2 separate regions of the Homo sapiens genome follow, and region 2 is linked to region 1. Evidence: fine-mapped expression QTL. Tissue or cell type: tibial nerve. Region 1 holds a variant in brackets; the other region holds the start of a gene. All regions are shown on one strand. Distances are from middle to middle.

What was found. PIP is the estimated chance that this variant, and not a neighbour inherited with it, causes the effect.
Region 2: it holds the start of ITIH2, and the variant in region 1 is fine-mapped to the expression of ITIH2 in tibial nerve (GTEx, PIP above 0.99). The same link has a PIP of 0.9 or more in cerebellar hemisphere, cerebellum, cerebral cortex, ileum, left ventricle and lung.

What each region holds. Positions count from the first base shown.
Region 1 is chr10:7,751,283-7,754,044 of GRCh38, forward strand. KIN (Kin17 DNA and RNA binding protein) reads right to left here. Exons shown (of 13, transcript NM_012311.4): 13 at 1-2,762. Among named protein-coding and RNA genes, the nearest start is that of KIN, 35 kb to the right of the region's middle. The variant T/G (reference allele first, on the strand shown) is at 1,403.
Region 2 is chr10:7,701,891-7,704,390 of GRCh38, forward strand. ITIH2 (inter-alpha-trypsin inhibitor heavy chain 2) reads left to right here and starts at 1,426. Exons shown (of 21, transcript NM_002216.3): 1 at 1,426-1,628. The coding sequence starts at 1,545.

The DNA of each region.
Region 1 (2,762 bases):
TAATCTGGTAAAAATCATTTTTCATTGTAGAGGCAAAACTCTTTTTTTGGACATATCCAACCCATATTTGAAAAAGCAAGTGAGCTCCTCTAAACCTAATTGCAAAATCTTAAGGAAATCTGATTGTTTCTAGAAGCTAAAGATTACTGGCTGGGTGTGGTGCCTCATGCCTATAATCCCAGCACTCTCGGAGGCCAAGGCAGGAGCATCACTGGAGGCCAGGAGTTCAAGACCAGCCTAAGCAACACAGTGAGACTCCCATCTCTTTATAGAAATAAATAAAAATAAAGATAAACTTAGTGCTGAAGAGGTAAATAGCACTACCTCTTAGTTTTCTTCTTCTATAAGAAGTGCTCACCTATGATACCCTTTTGAAAAACCTACTGCATCTTTTCCATTTCCTATTTCAAAAATAGAAAAATATTAAATATTAGAATGCTAATATTCAACATAAACTTCAAAAGTGAGATTTTAGCATTAACTCTGTTATTTGGTTAAAATCTTGAATTTAAAACTTCTACCTGCAGATATTAAGTTTAGCTTTTAGTATTTTATGTGTGCACAGTGGTCTTAAAAGTAACGATGTACTAAAAATACAAAAAATTAGCCGGGCGCGGTGGCGGGCGCCTGTAGTCCCAGCTACTCGGGAGGCTGAGGCAGGAGAATGGCGTGAACCCGGGAAGCGGAGCTTGCAGTGAGCCGAGATTGCGCCACTGCAGTCCGCAGTCCGGCCTGGGCGACAGAGCGAGACTCCGTCTCAAAAAAAAAAAAAAAAAAAAAAAAAAAAAAAAAAAAAAGTAACGATGAAAATCTTGGGGTGTTAAAAAAGAATAGCTTAAAACAAAATGAGAAGACAGGCCACTGACTGAGAGAAAATACTTGCAAAAGACACATTCGATAAAGAACACAACTGAAATATACAAACAACTCTTAAAATTCAACAATAAGAAAATGAGTAACCCAATTAAATAATGGGCAAAAAACCTGAAAGACATCTCACCAGAGAAGATATACAGGTGGCAAATAAGCCCATGAAAAGATGCTCCACATCATACTTCATCAAAGAAATGCAAATTAAAGCAATGACAAGATCCCACTGTACAGCTATTAAGATGGCCAAAATCCAGAACACTGACAACATCAAATGCTGACGGAGATGCAGAGCAGCAGGAACTCTCATTCACTGCTCGTTTGAATACAAAATGGTACAGTCACTCTGGAAGACAGGTTGGTAGTTTCTCAGAAGACTCCTGGCATATGATCCAGCAATTGTGCTCTTTGGTCGTTACGTAAATAAGTTGAAAACGTCTATCCACAAAAAACCTGCGCACAGATGTTTGTAGCAGCTTTACTCATAATTTCCAAACCTTGTAAGCAACCAAGATATCCTTCAGTAGGTGAG[T/G]GCATAAACTGTGGTGCATTCAGACAATAGAATATGCAGTGCTAAAATGAAGTGCGCTATCGAGCCACAAAAACCTAACCAAAACAACATGGAGGAACCTTACATGCATATGTTCTACCAGGTGAAAGAAGCCAATCTGAAAAAGCTACACCCTGTGTGACTCCAACTATATGACCTTCGATGGAGACAAAACTAGGGAGACAGTAAAAAGATCAGCGGTCAGCAGGGATTTGGGGGGAGACAGGGAACAGACAGAACACAGGAAACTTCTAGGGCAGTGAAACTGTTCTGTGTGATACTACAGTGGCAGATGCATGTCATTATACATTTGTCAAAACCCACAGAGACTGCTCTAAAAAGTAAAGTCTATGTTTGAAATAAAGAAAAATAGCTTATGATACTTCAAAAATCAAAGTCTAATATGAGACCTGTTGTTAGTTATCTGCAGTCATTTTGCTTAGCATAAACTCTATCAAGTTCTACAGACTCAGAGGGAAAAAACTACTGTGAAGTCTATAATCGTATTTTTATGCTTCAGATATTTTTTATTGAATTTAACCTCAAGTATGCTGCCTCATTTCATTCTGAAATAATTTCAGAAAGACGTTGGAGAATTAAATGTGGGAGGCAGACATGAAACATTTTTTCTCTGAAGAAAACCACCAAGTTGATTCCAAACGTACATACTTGGGGGAGGCATATGTAATTTGTCTGGTTTTACTCATCACTATTTGTTATCAGGGAGAACCATTCTCCTTTTTGAAATTCTTCAGACCAGATTCTTAGTAGTCCAGGCTCAACTTCTTGGCTTCATTTCTGGACATGACCACTCACTGCCATTTATTCAATACCTACTATGTGCTGGACTTCATGTCTGATGATTTATATGTATTTTCTGTAGGTCTCCCATCAACCCTGCTGAAAAACATTTTGACAATTTATACATTAAAAACATTGCAATTCAAGAACATTAACATTCTAATATTACAAAGCCAATGAACAGAACTGCCAGAATTTGATCTAAAGACTGCCCACACCCAAAACCCAGTTGCTTTCCATAATGTGCTGTCAGGTTACTTTGGAAAAACCTTAATTCATCCCTGAGGAACATTTTCTGTAAAGCTTCTGCCATCATCCTATTAGTATTTCTTTACTGCCTCTTACATTTCTGCTAACAGCATACGTTCTCCCATCTTCTGAGAATAGAAGCAATCAGCCCTCCCTGACTCTCAGTTAAAGAGAGAGATCCCAGGGTTTGGCACCATACCTGTGTCTGACGTCAGCTTATACCCATCCTCATGTTTGAAGTGATCATCCTGGTATGGTCTGTTTTTTGTTTGAACTCTTGTAGAAGATCAAC
Region 2 (2,500 bases), 50 kb before region 1:
TTAGTAGAGACGGGGTTGCACTATGTTGGCCAGGCTGGTCTCAAACTCCTGACCTCAGGTCATCCACCCGCCTCAGTCTCCCAAAGTGCTGGGATTACAAGTGTGAGCCACCGCGCCCAGCTGCCATTGGGTCTTAATTCTCCAGAAACAGTATCTCAGTCAAGAATGCAAAGCTGTGGCAGGATTTTTCCATGAGGGGTCCACTGAGGCACTCACTGGCCAAGGTGGGCGCTCAACTAGTCCAACCTAGGCAAGGGAGGGGAGAATCTGTTTTCTCCCTTCCATTATTTCAGAAGTTATGTTTCTCCAGCAGACACACGGCTGTGCAATTTCGAAGACTGAGGGGAAACTAGGGAGGAAAATGCAGAAAACTCTCTGTTGCATGCCCTGTGAATTGGGCTTTAAATGTAGCAAGGAGCTCCAGGATCCCAGAAGTTGGCCTGGGGTGCTTGGTCCTGAGGATAAGACAACCTCCCTTGTATTGTAATTCTGCCCACAGCTGGAGCTTCCTATTTCAGTGTTGCATCCAAGAAGTTACATTTCCTGTTTGTTGCAAGAAAAATAGAATCTGACCAGGATGGAGGCTAGGCATGGGGGCTCACATCTGGAATCCCAGCAGTTTCGGAGGCTGAGGCAAGCAGATAGCTTGAGCCCAGGTGTTCAAGACCAGGATGAGCAACATGATGAAATCCCATCTCTACAAAAAATAGCCAGGCAGTGTAGTGCACACCTGTAGTCCAGCTACTCTGGAGGCTGAGGTGGGCAGATTGCTTGAGCCGGGGGAAGTTGAGGCTGCAATGAGCTTTGATCTCACCACTGCACTCCAATTCTGAGACTGGGGAGTATTGATTTGCCACTGACCTGAGCCCGGCTGATAGGGGCAGCAGGACAGACACTGTTACCTTAATCAAAGACATTCACGAAGCATTCTCACTGAAGATCTGCCCTAGTATCCTGCACAGCCACTTGCCTGGGTCTTTATAGGTAACAGGTAGACAGTCATCAAAGAGATAGGGGAAAACATGCACAATGAATTCTTTGCTCAGAAAAACCCTTCTGTGTCTTCTCCCACTTTTTCTAAATTTTTCCTGCTTTCATTTAGATCAAAGGATTTTGTTTCTTGGAATAGTTCTGCACTTGGTCCTTTAGAAAGGATGACAATTATCTGTAGGTCTCTCTGATTTTAAGATCAATAGAAATCAGCAAAAGCCAAAAAATAAAAAATAAAAATAAAATAAAAGCACACAAGCACATTCAAGCACATCCATCTGCCCCTGACTTGTCCTCACAGTAAGCAACTGCTTCTGACTTTGCTGTTTGAATAACCTCTGGGTGTTCGATCCACCCACACAGCTCAAGTTTGAGCTCCAGAACAAATATTTGTCCCAATTTTGAACAAAGTTAGAGAGTTTTTTCTTCTTTTTTCTTCTTTCTTAAAGCGAACTGTACTCCTCTGCTGTTCCTTTGAACTTGGTTCAGTAGGAAGAAGTGATATCCTCCCCAGACCATCTGCTTTGGGGAGCTTGGCAAAACTGTCCAGCAAAATGAAAAGACTCACGTGCTTTTTCATCTGCTTCTTTCTTTCTGAAGTATCAGGCTTCGAAATCCCCATAAATGGACTTTCTGAAGTAAGTACTTACAGATCACTCCTTGCTGTTGGCTTGTTCATGAGCTCAGTAAATCATCTATTGGAATCGCTATTCAATGGCCTTATTCTGTGTGTAATGGAAACTTAAGATAAAATTCATCTGAGTGCAAGTGTTTACTGTTATAATTACTGGAATGTATATTTACCTTTTAAAGCATTAACAGGTTTTGCATGAAAATTAAGTCAAGATCAATGGGCAGGCATCAGAGCGTAGCATTTATGGAGCAGAGCTGCTCACTCCTCACCTAAAAAATTGGGGGTAAGAATAGACCTAACCCAATGGTTTGCTTTGAGAATTAAATGACACAGTGTAAACTCTTCTAGCAGAGCGCCTGGACTAGTAAGTGCTTAATAATTACTAGCTGTTATGATGATGAAGAAATATTATCACTCTTTTACTAAGAGTATAAGAAAAGTCATTATCAAAGCACACTGTTTTTCATATCTAAGTGAACAGTGATATTTGTAATAAGAGCACTTTAAGTATTCCTATTAAAGCGGAAGATAGCAGGCAGGGTGGAAAAGTACAAGAATAATTCCCATGGAGTACAGGTCTCCACTTTTGTCCCTTAGCCATCTCCAATGTAAGGAAAGTCTTGGACTGAAAGTCTGTTTCTGAAAGTCATACAAGAGCTATTTTTATGCCAGAAAAGCGAAGCATGTTATGGGAACATCCCAGCAAATGCAAAGGCTTATAATACTTGCAGAGTGGATTACCTATAAAAATGCCAGAGAATATGACGGCATATTTACAAAGGGAAAATATCACTCTGTCTGCTTTGAAACTATCATATTTTCCAACACTTAAAAGCCACCAGAGTGTGTTAGAAATCTCAAATTGAAGCCAAGACA